3 linked regions of the Homo sapiens genome follow. The protein of the gene in region 3 purifies or fractionates together with the protein of the main gene of each other region. This does not show direct contact. Each region holds a gene or a part of one and is shown on either strand. Other genes may lie near its edges.

Region 1 (3,500 bases), on a different chromosome or scaffold from region 3:
AAAAAGCATGAGCCGCACTCTTGAGCTCCCTCCCTATATAGGTGGTCCTGGGAGGCCTGCCCTGGTGTCTGCTCCTGGAAGGCAGACACTGCACGTCTACCTGACTCGCGCTCTGACCCTTTCGCAGGAAAACACGTGGTGCAAGCACAGAAGCTGGCGGACGTGGACAGTGAGCTGGCTGCCATGCTACTGACCCATGCCCGGCAGGGCAAGGGGCCCCAGGACGTCAGCCGCGAGTCGGATGCCACCCGCAGGCGTAAGCTGGAGCGGATGAGGTCTGTGCGCCTGCAGGAGGCCGGGGGAGACTTGGGCCGGCGCGGGACGAGCGTGTTGGTAAGGGTTTGTTCAGCTGTCACTGTCCTGGGATCTCCATGCAGACTGAGTCACTGTGCACATCCTTTCCCTGCCTCCCACATGATTCTCTCTTACCTTCCTCCCAAATCCTGGGGACAGAATATAAGAAAATCGGACTTTTTCAGCCACCGGGGGAAATCTTTAAGTGAGAATTATCTGGAGAGCTTTTAATAAAAGCCAGTTCTTGGGCGTCACCCCTGGAGATTCTGATACTGATTGGTGTGGGCAGGACCCCTGGAGCCTGGGTTTGAAGAAAGCTTTGCAGGTGATTCTGAGGCTCTCCCAGGTCTGGGGACCAGAGCTGTGAACAACTGACATATCCTGGGTTGTCAATGTAATCATTCTGGCTAGAAAAATTCCCCTTTTTGGCTGAAAATCTAAATAGAACTTTTAATATTTTGCTACTAAGAAATGGGAGGTGAGAATGGTTGTACCTCCTGGGTTCATAGAAGTCGGGAACCACAGGGGCCTTGAGAAAGATCTCCTGAGATTCCCCCTTGCATGTAGGTAGGCCGGGGTCTGAACAGAGGTGGCCCTTTTCCTGACAGTAAACTCAGCAGGGCTGCCACTCAGCCTCCCTGCCAGCAAGGCGTTGGTGCTCAAAGGTGGATGCAGACGCCTCGGTCCCTCCCTAGGCTCAGTTCAGTCTGATGGGGCGAGGAAGAGGCATGGTGAGAAGACACGGGGTGAGGAGGCCTGGCCTGATCCCACAGGACTGGTGGGCTCAGTGGTCAGGGAGGAGGGAGGGACTAGAGGGAGGCCAGGGCAGGGCCAGGGCATGACTGGGGCCTCCTCCCAGGCCTCAGGACACCCACCCCACCTCCCTCCCTCCCTTCCTCCCTCCCTCCCAGCTGGCAGGGCTTGAAGCTGTGGCCTCTGGAGGCCCCTAGCCTGGATAACCTTAGCTCTGTCAGCATAAGCTTGGAATTGAGGAGCCACTCTCAGCCCTATCCCTGTTTCTCATCCTAACTCATGTCTGGCCCCATCGTCCAGCACAGCCTGTCAGAGGTTCCACTCCTGAAAAGCTCTGAGGATGAAATTCTGATGGAGGCCCCAAGTGTGAAAGGCCAGCTCCAATCCCCCTGCAAAGGAACAGCCAGAGCCTTGGATGTTGGAAAGTGAATGTCCAAAGTCATTTAAGCCAGAAATCAAATTTTGTCCTCACCTTTTGAGTTAAATCCTGAAAGCACTGAAGTCAGCCCATCTCTCTGACGCCTCAGCCTCCTCTGTGTTAGACAGAAGGTTCCCAGCGCCCGGCCGCAGCGGCTTCTTGGAGTAGCTGCAGGCTGGCTGACTCCCCGGCATGGGGGTGGCCCCTTCCAGGCCTGAGATCTTGCAAGGCAGCCTCTAGTGGGCCTTACTTTTTCTTGTAAGTCCCACAGGAAAAACAGGCCAGTCTCCAACCTGTAGAACCCATGTGTGCTGGCCAAGCCCCTTGAGTCCCTGCGGCATCAGAGCAAGGGGGTGGCTGAGCCTTGCTGAGGCAGCGTGCTGCTTGCCTGGACTCTGACCCGGTGTGACCGAGACTCAGCAGGCCGGGGGCATGTCCTCTCCTGTGGACGCTGGGCCCAGGCAGGGCTCCCAAAGTTGTGTTGGGGACCTGGCTGGTGAGGCCTGTCACCATAGTTTTGAGGCCATTCTTTTCTCTTGTTTGAAACTTCTGATTCTCCACCGTGCGGGGGGCCAGACTCGTGTCTGTGAAGAGTCTCTCAGGAATAGGCAGGGATGCTGTGTGGACCTCCGTGTCAGGGACACAGCCAGCAGATCTCTGTCCAGCACTGCCTGAGATCCATGCCTGGGCGGGGCCGGCCAGTTCCACCCAGACCACATGGTCAAGGAAGGGGGTGGTGGTGGCGATGCTTGTGGAGAAATGTCCTCTTCTGAGATCGCGGGTGGTGGGCAGCCAGCAATAGCCCCTTGTGGAGGAGAGTGTGCCTGGGACCCTGTCCACCCATGTCCTCTTGTCTGCAGGCGCAGCAGAGCGTCCGCACACAGCACTTGCGGGACCTACAGGTCATCGCCGCCTACCGGGAACGCACGAAGGCCGAGAGCATCGCCAGCCTGCTGAGCCTGGCCATCACCACGGAGCACACGCTCCACGCCACGCTGGGGGTCGCCGAGTTCTTTGAGTTTGTGCTTAAGAACCCCCACAACACACAGCACACGGTGACTGTGGAGATCGACAACCCCGAGCTCAGGTGAGGTCTCAGTGGTGCCCGTCCTGCCCCAGCCCAGATCTGTGTCGGGTGCAGCCGGCACCCCTGCTGAGCTGGCTCGAATTCTGCCCGAGAGCCGGGGCGATTTGACTTCTCTCTCCCACTCCTCTGAGCACCGCTCTCGGTGGGTGGGACCGCAGCCTCCTGTGGGTCCTCCTGGGAAGAACTGCCCTGACGCCTGGACACTGCCTCCCCCAGCGTCATCGTGGACAGTCAGGAGTGGAGGGACTTCAAGGGTGCTGCTGGCCTGCACACACCGGTGGAGGAGGACATGTTCCACCTGCGTGGCAGCCTGGCCCCCCAGCTCTACCTGCGCCCCCACGAGACCGCCCACGTCCCCTTCAAGTTCCAGAGCTTCTCTGCAGGGCAGCTGGCCATGGTGCAGGTGCGGGTGTCAGGCACACAGGGAAGTTGCATTTGGCTGATGACGGTGGGAAATTGAGAATGCTTCCAGTCTCCACCAGTGTCCCTCCCTTACCTGTGCAGACAGACTAGCCTTGGGGCTGCCGCCCACTCCCCTTGGTGCTCAACAAGAGCCCTGGCATGTACACTGCAAGTGGCAACCAGCCCCTTCTCTTTTCCAGCCTGATGGGTGTCGAGCTGGACCATCTCCTCCTAATTTTCTTTACTAAGTTGGTTGGAAGGGCTTCTTAAAGCCCAGTGAATCTAATGGATTGACGTTTTCTAGCATCTTCTTTCCAGTTAATGTTGTTTGGTCCCTTCCGACTGCAGCACTGTCTGCTCTATGCAAGATGCAGCTTTGCAGGCATGTGTGCGGGGAGCATGCGTGCAGGGAGCATGTGTGCAGGGAGCGTGCGTGCAGCAGGTATATGTGCAAGAGGTATGTGTGCAGGATGTATGTGAGGTGTGTGTGCAGGGGCGATATGTGAGGTGTGTGTGCAGGAGGCATGTATGCAGGGTGTGTGTGAG
Region 2 (4,199 bases), on a different chromosome or scaffold from region 3:
TAAAAAAGGGTAAATGACATAGCCAAGGTTATAAAACTCATATATAATCAACCTGAGATTTGTACCCAGCACCTCTCTGGCTTTATTCATTTAATAAATATTGACTGTGCCTGGAACTCTGCACATTTCACAACATCAGGATTAGTAGTAGACAATCACAGAGAGGCTGAAAAGGTCAATTCAATTTAAAATGAAAGCAAAATCCTTCAAAAGCATAACTGGTAATGTAAAGGCTGAATCTCAGCCCATATTCCTCTTGCAGGCCCTCAGAACTGTCCTCAGGTCCCTAGAGCTGGACAGACTCTTTATGGTCATTTTCCAAAGCCCCCTTCTACAGTGTGGAGGTCCAGAATCAGAAGAGCAACGTGCCTGGCCACCACTGCAGAGACAGGCTAGAAGCCAGCCCCTTGTGGCCCATGCAGTGCGCCCCAGGTGGGCGCCCTTCCCTTCCTGGAAGCACTAACAACTCTCTACACCTGGGGCTACATAGCCACTGCTGGGATTACTCAGCTTTCTGCCCCAGCTGCTGCCTTTGTCACCATTAAGACCTCCACCAAAGGCAGAGTAGGGGAAAGGTTTTAAAAAAATAAAGTCATTCATTGTAGAAGTCTCCTTCTCTCAGGCCTTCCACAATACTTCTCCCTAGACCTTGGAGAAGAGGCAACTGCAACTAGAGGCTCTATCTACTGACAGAGCTCTTCCTGCTAGGGGTGGAGGGGAGGTGGCTACAGATCCAAGGAAAATTCCATTTTCTTTCTTGGTTGGTGACACTGACCATTCAAGACTCCTAATCCTGCCCTGTTTTCTAATTCTGGTAAAGTTTCCTAGTGTCACCAGTAAGAGAAACCGCTTTGTTTCATAAGTGGATTCTTGAAGGTTGATGCTTTTACCAGAACTAGAAGGGATCAGGGTAAAGTATAGGGTAGTAAAAGGGAAGAAAGGGTGACAAAAGCAATCTGGGAAGTATGGAGCCCAGAGAGACTCAGAGGACTAGGCCATGAGAGAACAGGGAGAAGAGAAAGTACTAAAAGCCAAAGTGCAGCCTCAGAGTTCTAAGAAGATGGGGATTATCTGCACCATAGACTAGGAAACCTGGCTTTCTTGCTGTACAGTCTCTTAACTGGTTGCCTTGTGAAAAATCCTCAAATCGTTCTGCCTTTTCTGGTGAAATGGGAGTAGACAAGGATTTATAAAATGCTCTATTATAGGCAGGTCGAAGGTGTTTTAACAATCCATAGAATGAATGGCCTCTGAGTCTGTAAAGGCATATTTTTTAAAAAAATACAGTAGCCAAATGTTTTCCTGTAAATGAAAAAACCAAAACCCCGAGAGAAACAAATTAACTTGAAGGTGTTTTCCAAGCCTAAAAGTAACCAAAGCCCCATAGGTTTGCTGAAGGAGACCGTCAAAACTCTAAACTGGTTTAGGTGAAATCCTCTCCAGGCATAGGTATCTCAGTGGAGGTCAGTTTCAGGCTGAGCTTTTTATGAAATCCGCCTAGAAAAGTAAGAGATGAAATGGAGCAAGGGAACTGGAACTTCCACAACTTTCTTTGCAGTGGAAGGTGACTCTCTTGACTTCTAGTATGGATTCCTTCCAGTCCCGTCCTCTTCCCCTTACAATACTCAATTTAATGTACTGAACTCCTCCTTCTGAATCTAGTGCAAAGTACAGTGGTGGACCCTCAGGGGATACCTGGATGGGGAGAGGCAGGGCGTGCATACAGGGCCAAGAATCCTTCGTTCCTGGGATTATAAGCACGGGAAGTCCAGCATCGCAAGCTTCCTGCCGCTACTGGGTATGGTGGTGCAAGGCACAGTCCCATCAGTGTCGATGTGAATGGAGTTGTGAAGTGCACAACTTGTCCAGCCCCTACGCCGAGGCCAGGCCTTTGTTCATGCAGTTGCCTAGTTCTGGTCCTTTGGCTACAAACTCAAAGCTGCCTGGCCAAGAGCCCTTTCACTCACTGTCCCTCTTTCTTCAACTTCTGTTATCCAAGACCCTCTATAGAATCATAGTGAGGGGGAGAGGAGTGCAGCTTCCCATACGGAAGGCGATATGTTTCCCTGACCCACGGATCTGGAAACTTCCGTGGGGCAGGGGCAACCGAGGGGTGCCACCTCTGCGGGCTCCCTGCAAGCTCCTCGGCCGTTCTGGGCAGGGCCGGGAGGGGCCACCAGGTGGCGCAGCCGGAGCCCAGCGCCCCAGCAGGTGCGGGCAGCGCGGAAAGTCCGCGAGTGGGAGTCCCGATGCCGGGCGTGGAGATGTGGGGGAGGAAGTCGGCGGGCGGGCGCCGGCTCCGCGAAGAGCTTCGGCCCTAGCAGATCTCACCGGACGAGCTCTGGCCTCGCGGCCGCCCCTCTACCACCCCTCAGCCCCAGCTCCCTCCCCGAAACCCCGGGCGCAGCGCGCCGGGCGTTCTGGACACGTCCGCCCGTCGCGCTGGTGTCCCGGGACTCCGGCCGACCCCGGCCCCCCTCCGCCCTCAACTTCCCTCGGGGTGTTGGGGCGACGGGCAGGGGCCTCTTTCCCAAGAAAGGACACAGGCGCTCCCGAGGGCCACGGCCGCCTCTACTCACCGCGGAGCCTCTCTCGCCTTGCCCAGGGTGCCCATGGCCGCGGCCCGCGCTCCCGGTGCCGGCTCACCTAGCGCGGCCGGGCGCGGCGCATCGCCCCCGCCACCACCGCCGCCGCCTGCCGGCTCTCTCCCCCCCGGGCCTCGTAGCCCCGGCGCCCGCCAGCCCTCGAGCCCGGCGAGCCCGACCGAGGTGCACCGCAGGCACAAACTTTGTGCGAGCGCGCCCCCTCTGCCTCGCGCGCGCGCTCACACCCGCCTGGCAACCACCTGACACGCTGATGCTGGCGGCTGCAGGAAACGTGCGGCGCCCCGCCGCTCTTCCCCGAAACCTGCCCCCTTTCCGCGGGTGCCCCGGCCTGCGCCTCGCGCGGTTCTCTCACCCCTGCCCGCCTTCGACCTCTCTTGGCCAAAGGGTTAAGTCTCAGGGGAGTTGGAGAGGAGCGGGCTCCCGGCTACCACGCCCGCGCCTTGCAGGGCACCTGTGCCCGTCGACCTCCACCTCAGCTCGGGAAACGGGCTGCGCCTAGCGGCTCCCATGGGACCCCCTTTCCCGCAGCCGACCCGCAGCTTCCACGCCTCTTCCTGCGGCCGCTGCTCGGAGCACTGCAGTGAGGACGCCTTCTCCCCTCCAGGGCCTCTCCTGTATATATCAGAGCGCGGAGTCCGGCAGGGGAAAGGAACGGAAAGACAGTTGTGAAGTTGCCTTAACCTGTGCCCTGGGGTCTCTAGGTAGCCGTCTGCAGGACTGGGCCGTAGACATGTGCCCTGTGCCCTGCGCCCTGCACCTTGGACGAGGGCTGCCTGTGTGGAGGTGCGCTCCACAGGCGTGATCCATATCTGGCCCAGACGCGGCCGCCTGGCGTCGGTGGGTGTAGGAGATGTGGGGACAACTTTCATACAACGTCAGTGCGCACAGAAGACCTGGCCAAGAGGGGCGGCCCATCCGCTGCTTGTCCAGGTGATAGTGCTGATAATCTCAATAGCTAATGATTGAGTGCGGTTGTGCTAAGTGCTTTCTATACATTACCTCATTTAATCCACTCTCCCTGATACAAAGAGATCACTGTTGTAAAGATGAGAAAATGAAGGTTTAGAGAATGCTATGCCTTAGATCATACAACTAATAAACAGCAGAGAGACCTCTGACTTGGACTGAGGTCTGTCTGACTCCCTGTAATCACTGCTGGACTGCCCTAATAACACACTCATTATCACGGCCACAGACCATAACTCTAGCCACAGTCATAGTTGTCTTCCTGGCCATAGTGTTCTGGACTTTAAAGCCTTCCTCTGTTTCATTTATATATTTCCTTATATTTATATGCTACCTTGTCCTTAAAACAGAATTCGAGATAGCTTACAAGAGCACATAACCTACAAAAAGAAGTGTGTGAAATGAAAAATGAGGCACACAAGATGGAGCCAAAAATGAACATCATTTGAAATAAATGCATCTCATAGAGTCAAATACCCTTGCTACAGGTGGGACCAAAATTTGTCTCCTGCATTTCTAGCAGTCAAGTTTAAAGAGAGGCCTTGTCTAAAGTTCAATTCCTATCACATGCAAGACCAAAAACAAAATTGCTCAAGAGAAGATCCCCCTTTCTTGATACTGAGACCA
Region 3 (3,500 bases):
GAGGCGGGGGGAGTCAGCAAAACAGTCCTTTGGGCTCCCCCTCAGTTGGTCATTCTCGGGACTCCATGAGAGTGGCCACCTTGGCCCTGGGTCACTTATATTTACTTGGCAATGCATAGTATGCAAACACCTTTTCTAGTAGTAAATAATTTAAACCTCATGATAACACTATTAGTCCATTTTCATGCTGCTGATAAAGACATACCTGAAACTGGGAAGAAAAAGAAAATTGAACTTACAGTTCCACATGGCTGGGGAGGCCTCAGAATCATGGCAGGAGGCGAAAGGCACTTCTTACATGGTGGCAGCAAGAGAAAATGAGGAACAAGCAAAAGCAGAAACCCATCATAAACCCATCAGGATCTCGGGAGACTTATTCACTATCACGAGAACAGTATGGGGGAAATGGCCCCTGTGATTCAAATTATCTCCCACCAGGTCCCTCCCACAACACGTGGAAATTATGGGAGTACAATTCAAGATGAGATTTTGGTGGGGACACAGAGCCAAACCATATCATTCCACCCCTTGCCCCTCCATATCTCATGTCCTCACATTTCAAAACCAATCATGCCTTCCCAACAGTCCTCAAAGTCTTAACTCATTTCAGCATTAACCCAAAAGTCCACAGTCCAGAGTCTCATCTGAGACAAGGCAAGTCCCTTCTGCCTATGAGCCTGTAAAATAAAAAACAAGCTACTGACTTTCTAGATACAGTGGGGATACAGGCATTGGGTAAATACAGCCATTCCAAATGGGAGAAATTGGCCAAAACAAAGGGGTTACAGGGCCCATGCAAGTCTGAAATCCAGTGGGGCAGTCAAATTTTAAAGCTCCAAAATGATCTCCTTTGACTCCATGTCTCACATCCAGGTTACGCTGATGCAAGAGGTAGGTTCTCATTGTCTTGGGCAGCTCCGCCCCTGTGGCTTTGCAGGGTACAGCAATGCAGCCAGAAGGCAAACCCTTCCCAGCTGCCTTCCGAGGCTGGCATTGAGTATCTGCGGCTTTTTGAGGTGCATAGTGCAAGCTATTGACGGATCTACCATTCTGGGGGTCTGGAGGACGGTGGCCCTCTTCTCACAGCTCTATTAGGCAGTGCCCCAGTAGGGACTTTGTGTGGGGGCTCTGACCCCACATGTCCCTTCTGAACTGCCCTAGCAGAAGTTCTCCATGAGGGCCCCACCCCTGTAGCAGACTTTTTTCTGGGCATCTAGGTGTTTCCATACATCTTCTGAAATCTAGGCGGAGGTTCCCAGACCTTAGTTCTTGACTTCTGTGCAGCCGCAGGCTCAACACCACATGGAAGTTGCCAAGGTATGGGGCTTGCATCCTCTGAAACCATGGGCCAAGCTGTACCTTGCCCCCTTTTAGCAATGGCTGGAGTGGCTGGGATGCAGGGCACCAAGTCCCTAGGCTGCACACAGCATGGGGACCCTGGGCCTGGCCCACGAAACCATTTTTTCCTCCTAGGCCTCTGGGTCTGTGATGGGAGGGGCTGCCCATGAAGACCTATGACATGTCCTGGAGATATTTTCCCCATTGTCTTGGAGATTCTGCTCCTTGTTACATATGAAAATTTTTGCAGCTAGCTTGAATTTCTCCTCAAAAAATGGGTTTTTCTTTTCTTTCTTTTTATTTTTTAATTATACTTTAAGTTCTGGGATACATGTGCAGACCATGCAGGTTTGTTACATAGGTATATACGTGTCATGGTGGTTTGCTGCACCCAACAACCGGTCATCTGCATTAGGTATTTCTCCTAATGCTATCCCTCCCCTAGCCCCCAACCCTGACAGGCCCCGGTGTGTGATGTTTCCTTCCCTGTTTCCATGTGTTCTCATTGTTCAACTCCCACTTATGAGTGAGAACATGCAGTGTTTGATTTTCTGTTCCTGTGTTAGTTTGCTGAGAATGATAGTTTCCAGCTTCATCCATGTCCCTACAAAGGACATGAACTCATCCTTTTTTATGGCTGCATAGTATTCCATGGTGTATATGTGCCACATTTTCTTTATCCAGTCTATCATTGATGGGCATTTGGGTTGGTTCCAAGTCTTTGCTATTGTGAACAGTGCTGCAATAAACATATGTGTGCATGTGTCTTTATAATAGAATGGTTTATAATCCTTTGGGTATATACCCAGTAATGGAATTGCTGGGTCAAATGGTATTTCTGGTTCTAGATCCTTGAGGCATCACCACACTGTCTTCCACAGTGGTTGAACTAATTTATGCTTACACCAACAGTGCAAAAGCATTCCTATTTCTCCACATCCTCTCCCAGCACCTGTTGTTTCCTGACTATTTAATGATTGCCATTCTAACCAATGTGAGATGGTATCTCATTGTGGTTTTGATTTGCAGTTCTCTAATGACCAGTGATGATGAGCTTTTTTTTTATGTGTTTGTTGGCTGCGTAAATGTCTTCTTTTGAGAAGTGTCTGTTCATATCCTTTGCCCACTTTTTGATGAGGTTGTTTGTTTTTTTCTTGTAAATTTGTTTAAGTTCTTTGTAGATTCTGGATATTAGCCCTTTGTCAGATGGGTAGATTGCAAAAATTTTCTCCCATTCTGTAGGTTGCCTGTTCACTCTGATGGTAGTTTCTTTTGCTGTGCAGAAGCTCTTTAGTTTAATTAGATCTCATTTGTCAATTTTGGCTTTTGTTGCCATTGCTTTTGGTGTGTAGTCATGAAGTCTTTGTCCATGCCTATATCCTGAATGGTATTGCCTAGGTTTCCTTCTAGAGTTTTTATGGTTTTAGGTCTTACATTTAAGTCTTTAATCCATCTCGAATTAATTTTTGTATAAGGTGTAAGGAAGGGGTCCAGTTTCAGTTTTCTGCATATGGCTAGTCAGTTTTCACAACATCATTTATTAAATAGGGAATCCTTTCCCCATTTCTTGTTTTTGTCAGGTTTGTCAAAGATCAAATGGTTGTAGATGTGTGGCGCTATTTCTGAGGCCTCTGTTCTGTTCTATTGGCTTATATATCTGTTTTGGTACCAGTACCATGCTGTTTTGGTTACTGTAGCCTTGTAGTATCATTTGAAGTCAGGTAGTATGATGCCTCCAGCTTTGTTCTTTTTGCTTAGGATTGTCTTGGCTATACAGGCTCTTTTTTGGTTCCATATGAAAGTTGAAGTAGTTTTTTCTAATTCTGTGAAGAAAGTCAATGGTAGCTTGATGGGGATAGCATTGAATCTGTAAATTACTTTGGGCAGTATGGTCATTTTCACAATATTGATTCTTCGTATCCATGAGCATGGAATGTTTTTCCATTTGTTTTTGTCCTCTCTTACTTCCTTGAGCAGTGGTTTGTAGTTCCCCTTGAAGAGGTCCTTCACATCCCTTGTAAGTTGGATTCCTAGGTATTTTATTCTCTTTGTAGCAACTGTGAATGGGAGTTCACTCATGCTTTGGCTCTCCGTTTGCCTATTATTGGTGTATAGGAATGCTTATAATTTTTGCACATTGATTTTGTATCCTGAGACTTTGC

What was found. Proteins that work in one complex are often made in the same cells at the same time.
Region 1: the proteins of CEP164 (region 3) and NPHP4 purify together in Homo sapiens (affinity purification with western blotting; one study listed by BioGRID). This does not show direct contact.
Region 2: the proteins of CEP164 (region 3) and RASGRP1 purify together in Homo sapiens (affinity purification with mass spectrometry; one large-scale study listed by BioGRID and IntAct). This does not show direct contact.

What each region holds. Positions count from the first base shown.
Region 1 is NC_000001.11:5,873,926-5,877,425, reverse strand, and holds part of NPHP4 (nephrocystin-4), read left to right. Parts: intron 1-127; coding exon 128-333; intron 334-902; coding exon of another isoform or gene 903-905; exon of another isoform or gene 906-2,311; intron 2,312-2,325; coding exon 2,326-2,552; intron 2,553-2,768; coding exon 2,769-2,955; intron 2,956-3,500. UniProt on the Homo sapiens protein: Involved in the organization of apical junctions; the function is proposed to implicate a NPHP1-4-8 module. Does not seem to be strictly required for ciliogenesis. Required for building functional cilia.
Region 2 is NC_000015.10:38,562,015-38,566,213, forward strand, and holds the start of RASGRP1 (RAS guanyl-releasing protein 1), read right to left. Parts: upstream 2,801-4,199; 5' UTR 2,615-2,800; coding exon 2,580-2,614; intron 1-2,579. UniProt on the Homo sapiens protein: Functions as a calcium- and diacylglycerol (DAG)-regulated nucleotide exchange factor specifically activating Ras through the exchange of bound GDP for GTP. Activates the Erk/MAP kinase cascade.
Region 3 is NC_000011.10:117,397,354-117,400,853, forward strand, and holds part of CEP164 (centrosomal protein of 164 kDa), read left to right. Parts: intron 1-3,500. UniProt on the Homo sapiens protein: Plays a role in microtubule organization and/or maintenance for the formation of primary cilia (PC), a microtubule-based structure that protrudes from the surface of epithelial cells. Plays a critical role in G2/M checkpoint and nuclear divisions.